Linked DNA regions of Homo sapiens: all the other regions are linked to region 3. Evidence: fine-mapped expression QTL. A gene starts in region 3. Each other region holds a variant in brackets. All regions are shown on one strand. Distances are between the middles of the regions. Region 1 overlaps TSG101 (tumor susceptibility 101). Region 2 overlaps UEVLD (UEV and lactate/malate dehyrogenase domains). Region 3 holds the start of UEVLD (UEV and lactate/malate dehyrogenase domains).

Region 1 (8,000 bases), 100 kb before region 3:
CCTATAATTTTCTGAACTCCTACTATGCCCACAACATCCAGGGAACATATAGAACACTCTGCCATGGCTACAATTCAATCCAAAAATTTTAAGTCTTTAATGAGTCACTTACTACTTCTTGATCTAAACGGGTAACCATCTCTTCCAGTTTCTGGTGACCCTTTTTCAGGTCTTCTTCTGTTCGTTTCAAGGCATTGAGCTCTGCCTGGGCACGATCCATTTCCTCCTTCATCCGCCATCTCAGTTTGTCACTGACCGCAGAGATGAGAGAGGCTCGGATGGTGTCCTCGCTGATTGTGCCATCCCTACTGGGACCTGCAGGAAACAGAGGCAAAAAACACTTGCTTACTTCCCAAGTTCCTTCTATTTGTCTCACAGGAACCTTCAGAAAAGGGGGCAATATGAACCGACACTTTCAAAATGTGAGGAAAGAAAAAAATTATGTTACCAGTTTCATGAGAAATAATGTAAAAATCTGAGTTGATTCAGAAATACTTGCCCTACAAGAGATTACTATTAATCCATGTTAAACCCAGTTTCCCTATTCATAGCCCAAACAATTAGCTACAATTAGTTATTTTCTCAATGAGACAGAGGCTATGTCCCTACCAATTACAATTATTCCTAAATAACCAACAAATGGCACAATAATTTCCACTAAGGAAAAACATTTGGTGCAGGCCAAGTCCAACATCAGGCTTCGCTGCTAAGCTGAAGGAGACAAGTGCCCACTGTAGAGGCCAGTGAGAGGACTGAGAATGGGCAGTTTCCCTAAACGAATGTACAGGTTAATAAGGCTTCCCTCTGTAAGACTTTTACTACTTCACCCTTTACCAACAGGACAGAACAGATGAACAAAAAAGAATGACATCCAAAAAATTCAACAGCTGATAAACTGTTTATTCCCAGATTCTTTACTATTCTCTTCCAAATGTCCCTTCCTAATCAGTATATTATATCATTTCCATGCATATTTCAGATCAAATAAACATCCTCTGGATATTTTCTTCAAAAAGGTCCCCTTTCTAATATAAGTTTGGGTATTCTTTATGACTATCAGTGTTCTTCAGTTATTGTCCCAAATCAGCAAATGTGTAAATGGCATTTTGACTTTTAATTATGTTTGATTATAAAATACTACGTGAGGACGTTAAGTATATTTAACCTTAATTGCCGCCTTTTTTTTTTTTTTTTTTTTTGAGATGGAGTCTCACTCTGTCACCCAGGCTGGAGTGCAGTCGCATGATCTCGGCTCACTGCAACCTCTGCCTCCTGAGTTCAAGCGATTCTCCTGCCTCAGCCTCCCGAGTAGCTGGGAAGCAAACTTCCTGAAGGGCCTTGTGAATTACCTGGGTCTTCTAATTACCTGTTAGATGATCCTGCTTTTTACCAAAACCATCAACAAACTCTGTCAACAAACTCTAAGCCATTCTAAACTAACAAAAAAGTTTAATGCTCTCGAACATCAGATCCCATCTTCTCTCTACCATTAAATTATGGTGAAACCTAATCTTTGCCAATGATCTTTCCTCCATTAACCATAATTCCCAAAACGTCAGCACAACAACTAGAATCTGCTCTCTCTTAACAGTTATCACTATATTTATTAGTTTAATAACCTATTTTCTGAAGGAAAGGTCTCTATAATCCTTATTATGCAGCCTAAATACTAAATGTTAAGGGTGGCAAACTGTTGCTGAATGATCTCCTGAAATCAACAGAATTGGTTATCTTCTAGGAGTCCTAGAGAAAAGGCCTCAGATGGTTAGAAGTCCTTAGAATGTGCTTTTTTGGAAACTTCCCTTCTCTTGTCTTCTGCTGCAATGTAGAAGAAGGTAATTATTAAAATTGTTTATAAATATATGAGCGCTCTCCAAAATAAATGGTATGGTGGTATTAAACCAAATGAAAGAACTCATCAATATCTCTACCTGAAAATCAGAAAAATGAACTGCTGAAGCTCTACTGCTTTGAAGGCATGTGGTTGGAAACAGTGCTGAAAAGTCATTAATAGAGTAAAATATTTAAAATTATGGATTTCATTAACAGCAACAGGAGGCAGCCAAATGCTGAGGCAGATGGGGTGGGTCCCCGGTGAAACGCCACCTTCAAGCCAAAAACAGCCTGAAGGCTGAAAGATTGGACTGCTGGTCCCGGATGAAACCCCTGACCTAGAGTGAGAACTTCTATTCCTGTTTGCCCACCCTTTCCCATTGATTCTTCCTCAATAATGCCTTTTAACCAATCAAATGTTGCCTTTTCCAATACTACCTATGGCCTGCCCTTCCCCTATTCTGAGCCTGTAAGAAGCCGCAGGACTCAGCCACTTAGAGGGGACTTTCCCACCTTTGGGTAGGGGAACCACCCCTGCATCCCCTCTCCAGTGAAAGCTCTTTCATCAGTCAATAAAACTCCCTGTCTTGCTCACTCTTGATTGTCAGTGCATCCCCATTCTTTGTGGGCACAGGACAAGAACTCGGGAACCAGCGGGTAAGCCAGACTCGGCCCAAGTGGGCCGAATGGGAGGGCTGTCTCTGGCAGCAGGTAGCATGGCTGAGGGAGGCCCAGGCAGGGTGTCGCTCGTCAGAGGTCCCTGGCTTGCAGAGTGACTGAGAAGAAAATCCTGCATCATCAACACTATCACTGCTTCACTTCATTCAAACAATTCTGCCCAACCAGCCACCATAATTCAGGGCTAAGCCCCTTCGGCAGTTAAATTCTTTAAAAATTTCTTATGCAGCCAAAAGACACATGAAAAAATGCTCATCATCACTGGCCATCAGAGAAATGCAAATCAAAACCACAATGAGATACCATCTCACACCAGTTAGAATGGTGATCATTAAAAAGTCAGGAAACAACAGGTGCTGGAGAGGATGTGGAGAAATAGGAACACTTTTACACTGTTGGTGGGACTGTAAACTAGTTCAACCATTGTGGAAGTCAGTGTGGCGATTCCTCAGGGATCTAGAACTAGAAATACCATTTGACCCAGCCATCCCATTACTGGGTATATACCCAAAGGATTATAAATCATGCTGCTATAAAGACACATGCACACATATGTTTATTGCAGCACTGTTCACAATAGCAAAGACTTGGAACCAACCCAAATGTCCAACAATGATAGACTGGATTAAGAAAATGTGGCACATATACACCATGGAATACTATGCAGCCATAAAAAATGATGAGTTCATGTCCTTTGTAGGGACATGGATGAAGCTGGAAACCATCATTCTCAGCAAACTATCACAAGGACAAAAAAACCAAACACTGCATGTTCTCACTCATAGGTGGGAACTGAACAATGAGAACACATGGACACAGGAAGGGGAACATCACACATCGGGACCTGTTGTGGGGTGGGGGGAGGGATAGCATTAGGAGATATACCTAATGTTAAATGACGAGTTAGTAGGTGCAGCACAACAACATGGCACATGTATACATATGTAACTAACCTGCATGTTATGCACATGTACCCTAAAACTTAAAGTATAATAAAAAAAAAAAAGAAAAAAAAATTTCTGTTCCCAAGGGAACATCCAAATTCTTTAACAAAGAATACTACCATAATTACCATAATTCAATCTCCTGGACTTGCTTTGGTTTCCATTTTTGGCAGGGAGGGGAAAACTGATTTATAATTTTGGTCTCTCACAACAAATTCAAAGGATTAGAAAAAATGTAAAATGCAATATAATTTGAGAAAACTTTACTAAAACACCTTAACACAAGGAAGAAAAAACATTAGATCGTTTCTGTAACCATTAAAATTTTTTTTCTAGTAGAGAGGTAGTCTCACTATGTTGCTCAGGCTGGTCTCAAATTCCAGGCTCAAGCTATCCTCCTTCCTCAGCCTCCTGGAGTGCTGGGATTACAGGCATGAGCCACTGTGCCTGGCATCCCACCTATTTGCTATTGCAAAAAACAAAAACAAAAGAAACAAAAAAACCTCAAAGTATAGGAATCTGCTATAATTCCTGGTTTGTAACAGGAGTGGTGGCCCAGCTCATGCTTCAGTGAGCATACATCCTCCTTTTCCATTGCTCCATGTTGCCCATCTCATCTTCAAATTACAGTATTAGGCAGGAAGCTTTTGGTAGATCTTTTTTTTTTGTATTTGGGTATTTTTTGTTTTTAACTGATAAAATTTTTATTTCACTTTTGAAGTTTTACACTTTTCCTGATTATTCTGTGTAAGGTGAAACTGGAACTGTTTAAAAGACATACACAAACCTAGTACATCAGTAACAGGATTTTTCTTTTTTGCTATACTATTTTCACAACCACAGGTGTGCTTGCTAGACAATATAACCATCACAGAAGAAAACATTAGGCAGAATACTGGTTAAGGAAAAACAAAGCAAGAAAAGAGCTACCAGATATACAAACAGGCTTAGCTCCACATTCACTACTGCATTTTCAAGGGCCAACTATTAACTGCACATTTTTGTTCAGTTAGAAAGGAGGGATTTTTGTTTTTTTTCTTTTTTTGGTTTGTTTTAAATCAGTGCATGAGGTTTTCTTTTCTCATTTCAGCAGATGGACAAACAGATGGACTCTACAGCTAGATGGAATGTTAAAGGTAGAGGGGTGATATTGTGAGACTGATAGGCCTATTATCAATTCTCTCCACTGCAGTGTCCACACAACTTCCCTGAATATAGGGTCTCGTTAAAACA[C/T]ATCTGAGAGTTGAGCTGGATAAGTGCACTTGGGAGACCTGGTGAGGGGCACTAAAAAGCATGATCAGGGCCAGCCTCAATACAGGGAGAAGTCAGGGATATTTAAAAATACTTTTTTGATTCAGATCCTGGTATGACTAAAGAGCAACACCGTGTTGAGAACTGGAGGAAGACAGAGCTCTGGTGCTAGAAGTTCTTCTCAAGTCTTTAAAGCCAGGCTTGCTCACCAAGTTGCTCACTAATGTCTCTCACCCCTGCCCATATACAGCATTAAAAAGTGAACAAAAGACAGGTAAAGATAGAATTCAAAAAGCAAAAAAAGGAAGGAAGCAGAAGGACAGAAATTTAGAGAGGAGGGAAGGGAAAACCAAAGTCAACAGTCAAAAAGGATGATGGGGGGCCGGGCGCAGTGGCTCACACCTGCAATTCCAGCACTTTGGGAGGCCAAGGCGGGTGGATCATGAGGTCCAGAGATCGAGATCAACATGGTGAAAACCCATCTCTACTAAAAATACAAAAATTAGCTGGGCGTGGTGGTGCGTGCCTGTAGTCCCAGCTACTTGGGAGGCTGAGACAGGAGAATCGCTGGAACCCGGGAGGCGGAGGTTGCAGTGAGCCGAGATCATGCCACTGCACTCCAGCCTGACAACACAGCAAGACTCCATCTCAAAAAAAAAAAAGGATGGTGGGAAAGAATGTTTTGATTTCAAAATTTAAAAGCCCCAAGCCAGGAAATTCAGTACTCCTCAAGTGAAAGGCAATCTCTACAGAACATCATTCTATTTTTTTTTTTTTTTGGAGATGAGGTCTCCCTACGTTGTCCAGGCTGGAGTGCGGTTATTTCACAGGTGCAACCACAGGGCACTGCAGCCTTAAACTCCTACGCTCAGGCGATCCTCCTGCCTCGGCCTCCCAAGTAGTTGGGACTATATGCCTACACCACCATGCCTGACTCAGAAGATTATTCTTAAAGGTATTATCCAGGAAACAGATAAGGTCATTCATAAAACACATGGCTTTTCTTTAGCTCAGTGTTAACAATGAAAATAGATTCCATTATTGAAGCACAAGTTGCAAATTGGTAACAAAGTGAACACACTGCAGTAGAAAAGGGGATTTAGTCAGGTGTGTTATATGAGCACTTGGACTTTTCAAGGTGTCATAAGCCAGTTATCTGCCACAAAGAATTTAAATTTCAGGATTCGAGTTTCTTCAGAGGAAGACACTGTGGACATCTGTGGTCATGAACTTTTGAGTGGCAACAGCCCAAACAGGTCAAGTGTCTTTAAGTGCCAAACAACAGGCAGCATTACTATGAATTACCATTAAACTCAAATGCCAAATGATGTGTGTCTCACTCCAGGTTCTAGCATCATAATATAATCTCTATAACCTTCTGTACAACTTTACAATGGAATTGTATTTCAATGATTCTGGTATCAGATTAAACTTTCCAAAAAGTTACACATAATTCAGGTCTATTTTTTCTACAAGTAAGAGTTTTGCTAAATTACAAAACCCCATAATCACAGTGTTGAATTAAAAAAAATTAAACACACAGTAATCCTGTCAATGTTAATCAAAATCAAAACTTCAGAATGCCGTGGCATTTATGTGACCAATCTGAGTTTTAGAATACAAACACCAGCTGTTTATCCCATGAACCATTTTTGCTAGGCTGAGGCTGTGAAAAATCCAAAGTCAACATACAATTATTTTTTACCACACAAGGGATATACGTGGAGGGTACAGAGTGACATTGAACAGATTACAAAGCACAAGAAACATTACTTCTCTCCCTCCCCAGCATCTCCTTCATCTTCCTGGTTTTCCGATGTCCACAGAGTAACACTGTCCCAAGTAATTGCATGATCAGAGTGCTGTCTTTATAAGACTCTTCATTCAGTGTATCCAATTCAGTAATTGCTTCATCAAATACTGTTTTTGCCAGGCTGCAGGCCTTTTCAGTAGAGTTTAGAATCTCATAGTAAAAGACTGAGAAATTAAGTGCCAGACCAAGTCAAACTGGATGTGTAGGCTGCATTTCTTCTTTCTTACTAATTTCAAATGCTTCCTGGTAAGCCTGCTGGGAATTCCACACAGTGGTTTGTTTGTTGTCTCCAGATGCCACTTCAGAAAAATACCTAAAATAATCTCCTTTCATTTTCAAATAGAAAATGGTTGTATAGAATTGAGAACAAGATATTTGTCCAACAGCTCCAGAACGTCATTGCAGATGTCCTGCAGTTCTGCCTCTATCTTCTCATGCTACTCTCTCCCCATCTGCTGCTGTTTCTCATTCCTCTGTTTTCTGCTCAATGCTGGAGAAGACATGCCAGGAAAGCAGCGGGCACCAACCATGTTCTTGTAGGCAACAGAGAGCAGATTTCTCTCTTCGTTGGAGTATTCATGCCTCGTTCTGTGACTGCCTTCGTGACTACAGCCATATCATCATAGCGCTCAGCCTGCTCAGTGAGTTGGCTTTCTGTACCAGCTCACTTTTATCCAGTCGTTCCCGTGGGAGGGCTGCAGGGGACGAGGATGCTTCTGAGCAAAGCTCCAAGTGAGGTGACCACTTCTTTCCCAAGCCCACTCCTCTGGCAGCGGTGGCGGTGCCTGCCGTGGCTGCAGCGACGGTAGCAGCAGCTCCTGTATTCGGATATTTTTAAAGTTCAAGCAAAATAAGGCAAAATGCCTTACAGCTTGGTTCTGTGTAGTAAAGAATTAACTTTACCCAGAGAGGCCACGCCTTTGCCCTTGGCTCCTGGAGGTGATGTCTAAGCCCTCAGAACTTCCTGACTAATTAGAGTGTTCTTTATCTACACCAGACAGTCTAACAGTGTGATTTATGGGGGGGTCTGGGCCATGCAGTGATAGGTAACAGCTCAACCTCTGGAGGAGCTGGAGACTAAAGGTCAGCCTCACAGGCAGTCAATGGTGTCTATATGACCAAGTCCTGATAAAAACTCTAGACCCAAGGCTCAGGTGAGCTACCTTGGTGGGTAATACTCCATGCATAATGATACATACTGTTACTGGGAAAAGTCAGCACTGCCTATGACTCCACTGGGAGAAGACAACTAGAAGCTTTGCACTTGAAACTTTCTGGGTTGCCCACGTGTCTTTCCTCAGCCTATTTTAATCTGTATCTTTTGCCATAAGTCATAACTGTGAGTATAATAGCTTTCAGTGAGCTTTTAAAGTCCTTCTAGATAATTATAGAACTTTAGGGTGGCCTTGGGAAACCATGAACTTGCAATGAGTGTCAGAAGTGCAGGTGGTTTTGTGAACTTCCAAACTTTACAGGTCCTT
Region 2 (8,000 bases), 21 kb before region 3:
ATTAAGAGGTAATAGCAGGCCAGGTACGGTGGCTCACACTTGTAATCCCAGCACTTTGGGAGGCCAGGGCAGGTGGATCACTTGAGGTCAGAAGTTCGAGACCAGCCTGGCCAACATGGCAAAACCCTGTCTCTGCTAAAAATACAAAAATTAGCTGGGCGTCGTGGCGCATGCCTGTAGTCCCAGCTACTCTGGAGGCTGAGGCAGGAGAATCGCTTGAACCCAGGAGGCGGAGGCTGTAGTGAGCCAAGATTGTACCACTACACTCCAGCCTGGGTAACAGAGCGAGACTCCACCTAAAAAAAAAAAAAAAAAAAAAGAGGTGATAGTGTATTCAAATGGAGGGTGAAAGAAATAAAACTACAGCATGCCAAAAGTTGGCATATTTAACTCTGAGCAGCCAGCTTTTAAGATATTCTAGCTCCATGGATATAATTTAATTATTTGCTGCAGTAGAACCCACCTCCAAGACATATGTGAGTCTTAAATGGAAAGGGAAGAATTTAGATGGCAAAACAATCAAATATATATAGAAAAGAAAAACTAATGCCAGCCACCAAATAAATATATAGAGGTACAGCTATTCTATTCAGGGCTACATCTCTCAAATGACAAAAGACATGCTGTTATCATGATACTAGGCTCTGGAGGGAGGCAGGCAGGTCTTTTGAACCTCTCTGGAAGGGCATTTAAGCTTTCCTGCAAACAATTTATGCAGACACTAGTAAAAAGGACTGATGAAAAAAACAAACCCTAAACTAGTATTAAATATCAACTCAGAAACTGTGATCCTAAAAGAAAGTAATTATGTAAGAAAAGGCCATCTTTAAAAAAAAAAAAGCCAATTTTAGAAAGAGCTAAAATTACTACATTAAATGAGTTTAATTAAAGTGGCATGATTCAGAAAATACAAAAGAATTTGTGATTAAGTCATATGAATGTCAAATTGAGCTTTCCCTTGGATGAGGATAAGCCCATTGTTCAAATCACTTTTTTAAACCTACTAATTAAAAGGCAACATCACTGATGAAAGCTTTCAACTTTTTTGTCAACTTACTAAATATATTTTAAGCCAAAATAAGGTTTTCCCACGACAAAATGAAGGCATTTTTTGGTGTGTAAAACACAACCTGCCTAGAAGTGTGGCACTATGATAGATGTATTTATAACCACTATGTTTACATACCTTTGCTGAAATTGCTAATGTGCAGGCAATACCGAGTTCTCCACCTCCAACCACAGTAATTTTATTGACTGTTTTATTCTCATGATTTGCCCAGCTCTTTGAATTTGTATCTGAAACACCTAGAAAGAAAGGTGAATTATCCTGAGAATTCAAAAATATCAAGAATTTTTTTAGGATCTTTAAAAAAAATATATAGCAGGCTTCATAGCTTAGAGAGAAAATATGGTGCTAGTCCATAATGGGCAAAAAATACTACTGAACAAATGAATGCAAGGAAGGCAGACGTTTCCTATTAAATAGTCGACTAAATAGAAATTATCCTTCTAAAGAGAATGTATCTTTCTAAACATTTTTAAAATATTGTATAAGACTCTAAAAAAGTAGGATTTCCATAATTCTGAAAAATATTCCAACTCATTGCTCTGGTCTACAATAAAAAAATATGTCTAACACCTTACCAAATGTTTCAAACATAGGTATTTGCCTTTATTCTTGATGAGAATCATAGATATTCTGATCCAATATATTGAATAAGCCAACAAGCCACATATACATATCATGAAAAAAAGTTTGGGATCATTAATATACAGCAAGTGGTTTTGAACAAGAATTGTTTTATCTGTTTAAGACCAATTCTTTACACTTTAAGAAACCTGGCCAGGCCCGGTGGCTCATGCCTGTAATCCCTGAACTTTGGGAAGCCAAGGCGGGAGGATCACCTGAGGTCAGGAGTTCAAAACCAGCCTGGCCAACATGGCAAAACCTCATTCTTATCAAAAATACAAAAATTGGCTGGGCATGCCTGTAGTCCCAGCAACATGGGAGGATGAAGCAGGGGAATCGCTTGAACCCAGGAGGCAGAGGTTGCATGAGCCCATATGGTACCACTGCACTCCAGCCTGGGTGACACAGCGAGACTCCATCTCAAAAAAATAAAAAAATAAATAATATTTATTGGAATTACATGGTAATACCCTGTGATAAAGGCAAAGGAATTACTTTTTTTTTCTTTTTTTTTTTTTTTTGAGATGGAGTCTTGCTCTGTTGCCCAGGCTGGAGTGCAGTTGTTCAATCTCAGCTCACTGCAACCTCTGCCTCCCGGATTCAAGCAATTTTCCCACCTCAGCCACCCAAGTAGCTGGGATTACAGGCACCTGCCACCACGCCCAGCTACTTTTTTTATTTTTAGTAGAGATAGGGTTTCACCATGTTGGCCAAGCTGGTCTCCAACTCCTGACCTCAGGTGATCTGCCTGCCTCAGCCTCCCAAAGTCCTGGGATTACAGGAGTGAGCCACTGCGCCTGGCCTGAGGCACAGGAATTTCTTATTTCAAAAACAGATGTACATACGCACACAAATTTATTTATAAAAATCAAGTGGCAGAAAGTAAAGGAGTTTAGTGAGAAACTGGTAACTCATAACTCTCAAGATAATCTGCCTGACAAATATACAAACCTTCAGTGATTTTTGCAATATAGGCTAGCAAGTCTACCTGCCGTGCCTCATCAGATGATGATAGAGAATACATGGGAAGTTCCTCTTGAAACTTGGCAATCATTTCTTTAATTAATCCAACAATGACAGATTTAGGCTGTAGAATACACAAAAAACAGAAAAGTTACACAAAAATTTTGCTGAAGAATACTACCTTTGTTGAGGCAGGAGTATTACTTGAGCCCAGGAGTTTCAGATGCAGTGAGTTATGGTTGCACCACTATACTCCAGCTTGGGCAACAGAATGAGACTTCATCTCCAAACAAAACAAACAAAAAATCTTTTTTAACCTATACATTCTTTTAGAGTTAGTCAAAAAGAAGCATTCAATCATGTTCTCATTTTTCAAAAATCATCATACACATTATATGATACTTTTAACTGTTGTAATGCTTTTCATGAAAAATTACTGAATACTTTTAACTGAAAAATAAAGGAAGAAGAAATGCTAATTCAACATTTCCCAAAAGTAGAAAAATAGCATGAATATGCTTAATAGCCGAATACCTA[G/T]GTTTAGGAACTCTCCTTTTTTTAACTTTTCATTTTGAAATAATTTCAGACTTACAGAAAAGTTGCAAAAATAGTACATATACTCTTCACCTAGATTACTCAAATGTTAACATTTGATCACATTTGCTTGTTTAGTCTTTCTCTCTCTAGTTTTTCTGAACAAACTGAACAAGTAAACTGCAAACATGATGTCCTTTTACCCCTAAGTACTTTAATGTATATTTCCTAAAAGAAAAAGACATTCTCCTTTTAACCGTTATCAAATCAGAAAATTAACACTAATAGTATCTAATCTGGTACTGTATTCTTTTAATGTAATTGGTTAAGCAACCTTGATGAAATTCACTAACCTTTCTGAGCTTCAGTGTCATCAGTAATACAAAGTGAATAATAAATCCCAAATGGTTGTTATGAGCAATAAATGAGTCAATGAATGCAAACTATACGCCGTGAGTGTAAAACAGATGTTTATTATTATTCCTGGGAATATTTAGTAGTATGCTCATTTAAAAAGTGCTTAATTTCTCAGAGTCTGAGTTTCACTATTTATAAAGTAAGAAGAGGCTATTAGGGCCAAGAATTCAAATACCTTTGGGGACCAAGCAGGTAACGTTAAATGTGTGAAGCTGGCAAGTACAAGAAAATCTGGAGAGACGGTTATTGTGGCAAATTGGAAACAGCATGCCAATAGGCATTCAAATTTACATTAAGAACAAAACAAAACAAGGTAAAACAAAACGAACTGTGCTGTTCAAACAAATTCCATAGGCCTAACGCGGCCCTCTGAATCTCTCAGAGAAATTGCAAACCCTGGCCTAGATGACCTCTAGATTCCTTCTAGCTCCAAAGTTCTATAAAATTATGCTACATAATTATAATTCCAACTGCATGTGGAACTTAAAGGTGCTGCAGTACTTTTAAATAGGGCAATTTAAATAATGTAATGTCTTTTTAAGACTAGTTTTAAGTGGGGGCACTGTGGCTCACACTTGTAATCCCATCACTTTGGGAGGCTGAGGTGGGAGGATGCCTTGATCCCAGGAGTTCAATACCAGCCTGGACAACATAGGGAGATCCTGTCTGTACAAAAAATTTTAAAATTAGTAGTGGATGGTAGACCATGCTTGTAGTCCCAGCTACTCAGAAGGCTGAGGTGGGAAACTCACTTGAGCCCAGGAATTTGAGGGTACAGTGAGCTATGATTGTGCTACTGCACTCCAGCACGGGTGAAGACAGCATTACCCTGTCTCAAAAAAAGAGACTAGTTTTAGCTTATAATAAAGAGGCTCAGAACAGTAAAATAAAATCAGAACTGTCTAAACTAAAATTAAACACAACTTTCACTAGATTATAAGACTATCCCCGAGGATTTATTAAACAAACAAAATTATGAAAAGAGATGCCAATGAAAACCAGAGAGAAGAAACAGGATACATGAATTCCTGCAACATGGTACAGATGTCAAAATACTACTCGAGGATAGTTTTGTTTTGTTTTGTTTAAAGAAGGGTGTAACAATGGATGGAGGAGAGAAACAGACAATTCAAAAAGGAAGAAACGTACGATTGATAAGTAAATGAAAATGATTTCAATTTCTCAAATAACCAAACAACTGAAAATTAAGAGTAAGATCCATTTTTGTCCTTCCAACTGACAAATTTTTATTATGCCCCATTCATCACATTTAACTGGCAATCTTATTTAAATCATCAGGTAATGCAAATAACATAAATGTTCACAAAGTAAAATGTCAACTCCTACTACTGATAATCCGAAGTATGTCCTTTGTTTTTTCTATTTCTTTTTTCTTCTTTTTAAATGTTTTCTATATAAAAATATAGAAAACCATAAAACAAAGTAAAATGCATCTACAATTATACACCTTTTTATAAGCTGTCTATAAAATAAAAAGTGATAATCCTAAGGCATTCTTTACTCCAACCTCACTGGACTCCAATATACCCCTGTCCTCCAGCCCTACTAGCTTTCTGGTACATATAAACATATTTTTTTTTTTGAGGCGGAGTCTCGCTCTGTCGCCCAGGCTGGAGTGCAGTGGTGCAATCTTGGCTCACTGCAAGCTCCACCTTCTGAGTTCACACCATTCTACTGCCTCAGCCTCCCAAGTAGCCGGGACTACAGGCGCCCACCACCACGCCTGGCTTATTTTTTGTATTTTTAGTAGAGACAGGGTTTCACTGCGTTAGCCAAGATGGTCTCGATCTCCTGACCTCGTGATCCACCCGCCTCGGCCTACCAAAGTGCTGGGATTACAGCTGTGAGCCACTGCACCTGGCCTCATATAAACATATTATAAATTATCCTTTTATACAGATTTTTAATTATTTACAAAAATGAGAGAATACTATACATCTGTCTAAACCAATGTATAGAAGATAAGCAAAGGTTTGTTTTAAGGATAATACCTTCTATTAGAGAAAAGGTACTGTAAAATAGGTACCCTCCTACACTGATTTCTACTGATTATAGAAATGTATCATTTTGTGTACCCTTTTGGAGGCCAATTTAGTAATATATAAGAAAATCTTGAAAATATTGAAAACCTTTGGACCAATAATTCTACTCCAAGAGATTTATCATTACGGAAGTATCAAAGATATATTAGATATATACAAACATTTACATTTAAAGATGTTCATCATTAAATGTCTTACGTTAGGGCAATTTGTAAATACAATACGCAATATCCTTATGCTGTCATCAGGTAACCATTAAAAACCATGTATTTTGAAAATGGTTTAACATGGAGAAATGCTCAATATAATGGTCAATGAAAAATGCAGAATACAAAATTACATAACATGAGGACATAAAACAAATACTACAGTTATATAGATCAATGTGGATGACTTTTTAAAACTTAATATTGGTTAAAACAAAGCATGTCACAAAAGATTACATACAGTATGATTCAACTTATATGAAAGTCAAAAACAGGCAAAACTACAAATAAATATAACATAAAAATCTGTAATAGGAAGGGACTTGGAAATAATGCCCCAATCACTTGCTAGTAGCTCCTCCTGTACTTTCTCAAGTGGGAAACGACTATAAAAAGACAGGGAGCAAACAGTTGGCTCCAAAACCTGGAGGGAGCAGCTTTGTACAGGCAGTTGTCATCAGGGTTCTGGGACTTGGGTAACCCTAGAGAGCTCAATTTCAAATTACTTCCAAAGACTACATGAAGAATATCATTGAAAGAAAATGCAGTATCATACTTATTTGTACCAGCAGAATCAATGATAGGTATTTAAAAAAAAAAAAAAGCTTTCTGTAGAAAATCCAAATTGATCTTACATGGCTCCAGTTTTGGAGATAGGGCAAATATATTCTGCCTTGAGCATCCACATGTTTTCCGACTAAGATTCCCATATTTGCAGTTGGCTTCAAGAAGCAAATAGGGGGAGCGAAAGGGTGAGAATCCAAAATCCAGAAACGAATTGGTATGTTATATGTATTACCTATTTGAGACAAAAGAAACATATCTTCAAACAATAATAAAGCACACACATTATGATATAGCTAGGCGGCATTTTAAGAAATGAGTAGGCTGGGGTGGTGGCTGAAGCCTGTAATCCCAGCACTTTGGGATGCTGAGGTGAGCAGATTGCATGAGCCCAGGAGTTTCAGACCAGCCTAGGCAACATGGAGGAACCCCATCTCTACAAAAAATTTTAAAATTAGCTGGGTGTGGTGGCACACACCTATAGTCCCAGTTACTGGGGAGGCTGAGATGGGCAGATGACTTGAGCCTGGCAGGTGAAGTTTGCAGTAAGCCATGATTGTGTCACTGCACTCCAGCCTGGGTTACGGAGTAAGACACTGTTTCAAAAAAAAAAAAAAAAAAAAGAAAAGAAATGAGCAGTCTAGTCAGGTTTACATATAAAGGATTAATGTTAATCAAGGCCTATTCCCCCCCATTTCATCCACATTCACATTGGAAATATGTTCCTATTAGATCACTGGTATAACATTTGAGTAAGTTTAATTAAAACAATGGCCAAATCATCCACCCTGCCTCTCAAAAAAAAAAAAAAAATCAAATTTTCAAAAATGTTTACTAATATAGCCAGAGTGGCAGCCCAAATCCTGATGGAGTCACTTCCTACATTAATCACTACACATTAAAGAAAAGGAAAGAAATGTCTATTGAAGGCCGGGCGTGGTGGCTCACACCTGTAATCCCAGCACTTTCAAGGTGGGTTGACCACTTGAGGTCAGGAGTTTGAGACCAGCCTGACCAACATGATGAAACCCCATCTCCACTAAAAATTCAAAAAGTTAACCGGGCATGGTGGCAAGCACCTGTAATCCCAGATACTTGGGGGGCTGAGGCACAAGAATGGCTTGAACTCAGGAGGCATAGGTTGCAGTGAGCCGAGATTGCGCCACTGCACTCCAGCCAGGTGACAGCGCAAGACTCTGTCTCAAAAAAACAAAACAAAACAAAAAATGTCTATTGAAGGTATTCCCCTGGTTGATCAAGGATCTGCCTCCACCAATGCCCCTCCCCAGCAGTATTCTTGCATTTTAACAGCCCATGACTGGCAAAGCACCTGGTGACTCAGATTCCTGTGTCTAAACGTTAAGATTTCACCACTAGTTCACTAGTCTCTTCTTCCTTCCCTCTTTCCTATCAGCAAATACCTTGACTCCTACCCTGCACATCTAGCTTTTAGTAATTCAGCACTGAAGAGTCCGAACTCCTGGCACAAAGTCCTCAGATTTAAAGGAATTATATCATAAGAACATAACTTAAGTTGGATGTAAACAAAGTTTAGATAGGTGT
Region 3 (8,301 bases):
AAATGTAACACTTAATATAAACGAAGGAATATACTTATTGGCTGGGCATGGTGGCTCACATCTGTAATCCCAGACTTTTGGACAGTCAAGGACAAAGGATCACTTGAGGCCAGTAGTTTTGAGACCAGCCTGGGCAACACAACAAGACACTGTCTCTACAAAAATAAAAACAAAAATTGGCCAGATGTGGTGATGTTGCCTGTGGTCCTAGCTACCTCCAGAGGCTGAGGCAGGAGGATCACTTGAGCCCAAGAGTTTGAGGCTGCAGTAAGCTATGATGGTACCACTGCACTCCAGCCTGGGAGACGGAGCAAGGCTCTGTCTCTTTAAAAAAAAGAAAAAGCACACGCTTTTTGCAGAATAATAAGTACTGGTGAATTGACCCACCCACTTATGATACAGAACTGTCTGACAAAGCTTTCTGCCATAATGGAAATAATCTACACATACATTGTCCAATATGATAGCCACAAACCACATGTGGCTACTAACAATTGAAATGTGATTAGTGATTTTATTCCTGTTTTTAAAAAATGCTTATTTATATCTTTTGCCCAATTATCTATTTACTTTTTTGTTTGCTTTGTTTTTTTGAGACGGAGTCTTGCTCTGTTGCCCAGGCTGGAGTGCAGTGGCGTGATCTCAGCTCACCACAACCTCCACCTCCCGGGTTCAAGCGATTCTCCTGTCTCAGCCTCCTGAGTAGCTGGGACTACAGGCCCATTGCAGGATGCCCGGCTAATTTTTGTATTTTTAGTAGAGACAGGGTTTCACTATGTTGGCCAGGCTGGTCTTGAATTCCTGACCTCGTGATCTGCATGCCTCAGCCTCCTAATGTGCTGGGATTACAGGTGTGTGCCACCATGCCTGGCCTATTTATTGGTTCTAATATTGATTTGTAGGCATGCTTTATATATTTTAGATACCAATACTTTGTCAGTTATGTGTGCTACAGATAGCTTCTCTAAGTTTGTATCTTGCCTCTTCACTTTCTTTAATTTTCTTTTTAAAAAAATTGAGATAGGGTCTTGCCATATTGTTCAGGCTTGTCTCAAACTCCTGGACTCAACAGATCTGCCTGTCTTGGCCTCCCAAAGTGCTGAGATTACAGGTGTGAGCCACCACACCTGGCTGCCTCTTCACTTTCTTCATGGTGTCTTCTGTTCTTAATTTTAATACAGTTGAATTTGTCTCTTATTTGTGTATTATTTTAAAACGGTTTGCATATTCTGAGCCTATAACATTTATCTTTTTAGGTTTTAAAGTTGTCTTTTACATTTAGGTCTTTAATCCACTGGAAATTTTTATGTTTGGCGTAAGGCAGGGATACAAGGTACAATTTCATTTTTCTCATGTGGATATTCACTTGTCTCTCCATTCTCCTTTCGCCATTTATCTGCAATGTCTTCTGTTTTATATTGCATTTCCAAACATGTGTGACTACGATTCTAAGCCCTTTAGTCTGTTTCACTGGTTAGTCTATTCCACACCAATGCCACACTAAATTTTACTTGCCGTAGTACTGATATTTGGTAGAGCAGGTCCTCAAATCTATCATCTATTCTTTCCTTCTTTATTATTATTATTTTTTTTTTTTTGAGACAGAGTATTGCTCTGTGGCTCAGGCTGGGGTGCAGTGGCGCATTCTCAGCTCACTGCAACCTCTGTCTCCTGGGTTCAAGCGATTCTCCTGCCTCAGCCTCCCAAGTAGCTGGGGTTACAGGTGCCCACCACCATGCCCAGTTTTTACATTTTTTAGGAGAGACGAGGTTTCACCATGTTGGCCAGGCTGCTCTTGAACTCCTGACCTCAAGTGATCCGCCCACCTCGGCCTCCCGAAGTGCTGGGATTAGAGGCGTAAGCCACCACACCCAGCCCTCATATCTATTTTTTTTCCATAATAATGTCAAGGTTATCCTTGGCCTTCTGCTCTTCTGAATGAATTTTAGAATCAGTTTGAAGTTTCCAAGAAATGCATTGACCCTATAGATAAATTTGGAGAGAACTGACAATCTTCACATCTATGAAACTGGGATATCTATTTAATTAGATTTTTTACTTTCTCCATAGTTGCTTAATTTTTTAATGTACTGATCACTTCTCCATCGATTTTTTCTGCAACAAAATTATTTCTAAGTTTTAAAAAATTTTAAATTCATTTTTTTTTATTTTTTTGAGATGGGGTCTCCCTCTGTTGCCCAGGCTGGAGTGCAGTGGCACGATCTTGGGCCACTGTAACCTCCACCTCCCAGGTTCAAGTGATTCTCCTGCTTCAGCCTCCCGAGTAGATGGGATTACAGGAGCGGGCCACCACGCCTGGCTTATTTTTTTGTATTTTTAGTAGAGATGGGGTTTCACCATGTTGGACAGGCCGATCTCGAACTCCTGGCCGCAGGTGATCTACCCGCCTCGGTCTCCCAAAGTGCTGGAATTACAGACGTGAGCTACCGTGCCTGGCCTTACATTTATTTCTACTTTTTAGAGACACGGTCTCGTTCTGTCTCCCAGGCTGGCAAGCAGTGGCACAATCATAGCTCTCTGCATACTCAAACACCAGGGCTCAAGCTATTCTCCTGCCTCAGCCTCTCAAGTAGCGGGGACTACAGGCATGAGTAACTGTGCCTAGACTAAAATTATTTCTAGATATTAAACAATATTATTTGCAGACTGCAGTGAATGGTCAGGAAACTTCATATATTTGCTGCACTGACTTGTTTCTGATTGGTTTCCTTAATTTATACAGCCAACAAATACTTATTAATAATAAGCTACCCCAGCCTGGCCAATATGACGAAACCTCGTCGCTACTAAAAATACAAAAAAAATTAGCCGGGCTTGGTGGTGGGCGCCTGTAGTCCCAGCTACTCAGGATGCTAAGGCAGGAGAATCGCTTGAACCCAGGAGGCGGAGATGGCAGTGAGCAGAGATCGCGCCACTGCACTTCAACCTGGGTGACAGAGCGAGACTCCGTCTCAAAACAAACAGTAATAATAATAATAAGCTACCTATGTGCCAGACTCTATGCTATGCACTGATGGGGAAAAAAAAATCCTCTACTATTCTACTCTCACCCTTGAAAAAACCATTGTCTCTCTTCTTTTCCTTCATTCCAGTGCCACCAAAAATATGCTCTATGTTTGAATCTTAACTTGAACAATTCTTCCCATCGGACAATCCATCATCCTCTGCACATTAAAACTTGAATGGTTCTTTTAATTTCACATGCTCTGAAGAGGAGACAGAAAGGGTAGCATTATGATACTTCTCTTCCTACAAGATCTGCACCTGTCGCAGTAGATAAATTCATTCAAGTCACTTACATAAACAATTTCAATCTTAGGACTTCAAAACCTCCCACGGGTATGTAAACTGCCCCAACAAAGAAAGAGGCAAGTATAACAAAAATGGCATAAACTATGGTTTCTGCATTAGGAAGTCTTAAGAAGCATTAAGAATTATTTAAGGCCGGGTGCGGTGGTTCATACCTGTAATTCCACCACTTTGGGAGGCTCAGGCGAGTGGATCACTTGAGGTCAAGAGTTCGAGACCAGACTGGCCAACATGGTGAAAACCCATCTCTACTAAAATACAAAAATTAGCCAGGCATGGTGGCACGCGCCTGTAGTCCCAGCTACTTGGGAGGCTGAGGCACGAGAATCGGCTTGAACCCGGGAGGTGGAGGTTGCAGTGAGCCTAGATCGCACCACTGCACTCCAGCCTGGGGGACAGAGCAAGACTCTGTCAAAAAAAAAAACACAAAAAACAAAAAACCACCTTAACTAGGAAACTGGTGAAAACTAGTCTTCTTAACTAGAAAATTGGCGGGGATTCCCTCAGATTGTACACCGGAAACTCAGGCTAGTCAGGTCTCAGAAATATAGGTCAGATTTCTAGGTCGGCCCGCCTACTCCCCAGCCTTCCAACATTAAGATCTCTCCAGGGCCTTCAAGCTCTGTCTTCATCTCTAAATCTACTCAGGTCTTTCATTCACTGCACAGTTACTTAGTACCTATGGTGTTGTCAAACATAGTGGCTAGAGGAAGGGAATACAAAAGCACAATGTCTGCAGTCAAAGGGGCTCACAGCAAGATTACGGTTTGTAAATACATAATTACTCCACAATGTGATAATCGATATCTTTCAAAACAGAAGGGTTGATTCAATCTTACAGGGAGTGACTGAGTTGGGTCTTACAAAGGATGAGCTTTGCAATTCAAGAAAAAAGAAAAAAAAGGCAGACCATTTCAGCAGAGAGAAAGAGAGAAAGGCGTGGTTAGGCGTGTGCTGGGAGCTGTTTGAGGTCAGTGAAGCTGGGGGTATGAGGAGGGCTCGCACCAGGTGGAGGTTGGGAAACCTCAGAGTTGCGGGAGAAATCAGAATCCAGGTCCCCTCAGCCTCCCTGGGGCCGCGCCCCATAGCCGGTTTCAGACCAGCCGCCCCGGCTCCAAGCCCCACTACAAGCCGGGAAACGCAAAACGGAGGCAACCTGGCCAAAGGCAGAGGCACCCCCCGCAAGACCCTGAGGACCCAAACTGGCCCAGCGGACTGCCCGCACCTTGCCAAGCAGCCGTCTCAGGCCCTCGCAGTCGAACTCCATCTCCAGGCCGGTCCCGAGCTAGGTCCCAGGACTCCAGCCCCCGGACCTTCTTCCGGACTTGCTGCAGGACGGAAGCCGCTGAGGACCAAACTTCCCGGCGGTCCAAGGCCCCGCCCCTTCCCAGACTGGAAATTCCACCCGCATTCAACGCCCCGGGCTCAGCCGCGGCTGCGCCCGGAATCCGGGGCCTCTCCTTCGTGACCCCGGAGTGGGCAAGTGACGAGGGCACGGCCAGAAACGCATTGGCGTCAAGGAAACCACGACCCATCTTCCTGGAAGGAAACTTGGGGACACTTATGAAGAGAAGACTAGGAAGGACCGGAGTAGAAGCACTAAAGGAGGTAGAGGCAACACGCGGTGTTCTTGAAGAGTTTCCAGACAGATGTATTAAATTCCACAGTGTATCAGGAAAGAGCAAGACCGAAAATTGCAGTTGAATTTAGGAAGGAGGCGGTAATGGAACTTCAGAAGCAAAATTTCAGGGAGTAGAAAGGAAAAACAAAGTCAGGAGGAGCCTTGCCGGAGAAGCGGAGATAGGACAGCCCCAGCATGAGGGTGGCTTAGCACGGGGAGAGTGGTTGCTTTTTTTATTTTTTTTAGGGGTGCCATAACAATGTTGGTGGTCAAAGAGAGGAGAAATCCAGGTGAACAAATAGTTGGAAAACAAGAGAGGAGGGAGATGGGTGGATAAGGTCATCTGGAGAAGGTGGGTGAAGAAGAGATGCAGGATACAGTAATTTTCTGGCGTTGTTTGATCTCCTTGGCCCATGGCTGACTTACCTGCCCTGTATCCCTGGCCTGAGCCACTGAAGCGAAAAGTCCCAGGAGCTGGATATTGTAATTGTCAAGAGGTTGGACATATAGGAGAGAGATTGTATTTATAGGAAGATCTGAAGGGAGTGCTGCCCTGACTCAGGAGAAGAAGCTGAAAAGCTGGAAGGAACATTCATTCAGAAAGTTTTTGTTGAGCATCTACTACTTGCCAGCTATTTTTCCAGGTCTCAGGATACAGCCGTGAACAAAATACACTCAGATAGCTGATGTCTTAAGGGTGTCATTCCTTTATTAGCAGAGAGAGAGCAAAACAATAAATGTAATAAGTAAATTATTCAGCATGTCAGAAGGTTGATTACGTGTTGTGGAGAATAAATTCTGAAAAGGGTAGGGAGATTGGGGTAGGTCTCACTGAGGGGTGAGGGAGTAAGTGTTACGAATCCGAGTGCAGACAAAGCAGTAGCCTAAGGCATGTGCCCAGGGAGGCTCAACACAGCAAGGAGGCCAGTGTGGCTGGAGTAGAATGAAGTAAGATGGGAGTGGAGACAAGGAGGCTAAGTCAGGGAAATAAGACGGGGGAACAAGTGGTTTAGAGAAGTGAGTCTTCTAGTGTGAGCCCCAGATCTGCAGCCTCAGGTGCTGGGAGTTGTTAGAAATGCAGATGCTAAGACCTCAACCCCAGCTTTATTCAATCACAGGCTCTGGGGTTGGGGACCAGCAATTCTCTTTTAACAATTCTTCCAGATGATTCTGATGGGTGATGAAGTCCAAGAACCACTGTGGGACTTTGTAGACAATTGTAAGGACTCTGGCCTGTCCCTGCCCTCCAGCCAGAGACCATCAGGAACACACCTGTGCTTAAACAAGTTGAGTTCATTATTAATAGTTCTTGCAGTGAGGAAGCAGGTGTTGTGGAGGACCATTGGGACAGCTTGGTGAGGGTGAGAGAACCTATTATAGAATTTGGGCGATTTGCGGGAGGGCTCAAGAAAGCCAGGCTTCACCCTGGATTGGGTGCTGTCAGAAAGCAGGGACATTTCTGTGACTAGGTATCTGAATAAGTATTGTCTATAAGATGGACAGACTAGAGTGAGGATAAAGCTATACCTAGTAAAGAAGCAGCAGTCACTCATAATAGCAGAGAAGGACGTTTGGTATTTCATGGCTTGCACAGTGACCTTGCTCTCTTGTCTCTGCTTAGACACAATTTTGAAATGGCCTTGTTGTTGTGTCCCTTTTTTATAGTCTGACTGACCTTGTCTCATGTTGGTGTTCTGTGAGATTATGTCCCACAGAAGAATAACTGGGCCAAGCTGTGAGCATCAGGCCAGCTTCTAACAACCCTGAAGTCTAGCTGTGTCAGACCAGCTCTCAGATGTCAGGGCCTGCCTCTTCCTTTCTCAGGCTTTTAATCTGGGAGAAAGAGAAAGCCACTGGGAGGTTTCGAACAGAACAGTGACATGATCTGACTGAGCTTTAAAAAAATATTAATAACTCTGCAGTGTTGTGAAGAGGCAGTAGTGTCAGGCAAGAGTAGGCCAGAAGACAAGGTAGGAGGAAGATTACAGAGAAAAGCTGATAGAAGGGCTGTTAAGTGCATCTCAGCCAGATCTAACCAACCTTAAAACAGTAGAACTGCCAGGGGCTCCAAATTCTAATAGATCCTGCCAGAAATCCGTGGTATAAGGAAAAGATACCAGTTAGCAGCAAGGCCAGAGCAAGATTCTTCCATCTTTTATGAAAGAGCCTTTTATGAAAGAGGCCTTCCAACCAAACCAATTCTCTTCTGGTCTAGTCACTATGCACACTTTATGCCAGAGAGAGTGTGAGTGAGTGAGTGTGTGTGTGTGTATGTAGCATTTCCTTTGTGGAAGGTATACTGCTAAGAGTTTTATGTGCTTTATCTCCGTTCATCTTCATAAGACCCTATGACCTGGATAGAATTATTACCTCAATTTTACTGATAAGAAAATTGAGGTGTATTGTTATATTACCTATTTTACTTGTTTCTGAGGTTCTGTTGAATAAGAGATGTATTAATGATAGCTTTTGGGGGGAGAAGAAAACTACAAAATTAAACATACATACTGATTTTAACACACCTATTTGAAAAGAATGTAAATGTGAAATAGAGGATATGTATATAATTGTCTCCATTTTACAGATAGGGAAACCAAAGACTAAGGTTAAATTACTGCAGAAGATGATGTCAAAGACTGTCTTCCTAAACTACATGTTATAGTGCCTCTCACTGTGGGTGAAATTGTGATGACACTTTGTGATTAATAATAGTCTAGGAAATCAGCCAGGTGTGGTGGCTCATGCCTGTAATCCCAGCACTTTGGGATGCCCAGGCAGGCGTATCATCTGAGGTCAGGAGTTCGAGACCAGCCTGGCTAACATGGCGAAACCTCATCTCTGCTAAAAATACAAAAATTAGCTGGATGTGGCGGCAGGTGCCTTTCATCCCAGCTCTTTGGGAGGCTGAGGGAGGGAGAATTGCTTGAAGTTGGGAGGCAGAGGTTACAGTGAGCCGAGATCTTGCCACTGTATTCAGCCTGGGCAACAGAGTGAGATTCCATCAAAAAAAAAAAGGTCTACAAAGTCTGAATTATGTGCTTATATTGCTATGCAGTTACAAGAGAAAGGCTGTGTAGTACTGAAATTGGCTTTTTTTTTTAAGCCTCTCCCTTGACTTCCATCCTGACCACCAGGCTACCCTCATCTCCTGAAACTGGTGCTATTAGATCCTATAATCCAGTTAGGCTGAAACATTCACTCTTCCCCAAGTACATTGTCTTCTTCCTTGCCTCATACCTTAGTAGCTGCCAGGAGTGTTTTATTATACTTTTGTACCTGTCTACCTCCATCTCCACTCCTCTTTCTGTCCTCAGATACTGTAAGGCCCTGGCAAATAGGGGTTGAATCTC

The links. PIP is the estimated chance that this variant, and not a neighbour inherited with it, causes the effect.
Region 1: its variant is fine-mapped to the expression of UEVLD in whole blood (TOPMed, PIP 0.97).
Region 2: its variant is fine-mapped to the expression of UEVLD in whole blood (INTERVAL, PIP above 0.99).

Annotation. Positions count from the first base shown.
Region 1 is chr11:18,483,758-18,491,757 of GRCh38, forward strand. TSG101 (tumor susceptibility 101) reads right to left here. Exons shown (of 10, transcript NM_006292.4): 8 at 113-315. It also overlaps the pseudogene YWHABP2. Among named protein-coding and RNA genes, the nearest start is that of LDHAL6A, 32 kb to the left of the region's middle. RefSeq lists a silencer at 2,381-2,590 and an enhancer at 2,551-2,600. The variant C/T (reference allele first, on the strand shown) is at 4,689.
Region 2 is chr11:18,563,706-18,571,705 of GRCh38, forward strand. UEVLD (UEV and lactate/malate dehyrogenase domains) reads right to left here. Exons shown (of 12, transcript NM_001040697.4): 4 at 6,509-6,672; 5 at 2,642-2,777; 6 at 1,187-1,305. Among named protein-coding and RNA genes, the nearest start is that of UEVLD, 21 kb to the right of the region's middle. The variant G/T (reference allele first, on the strand shown) is at 3,191.
Region 3 is chr11:18,584,058-18,592,358 of GRCh38, forward strand. UEVLD (UEV and lactate/malate dehyrogenase domains) reads right to left here and starts at 4,677. Exons shown (of 12, transcript NM_001040697.4): 1 at 4,556-4,677. The coding sequence starts at 4,597. It overlaps LOC112268073 (a long non-coding RNA gene), which reads right to left. Exons shown (of 4, transcript XR_002957242.2): 3 at 6,479-6,784; 4 at 6,036-6,223. RefSeq lists enhancers at 3,725-3,834, 4,235-4,384, 4,425-4,484, 4,545-4,839, 4,745-4,794.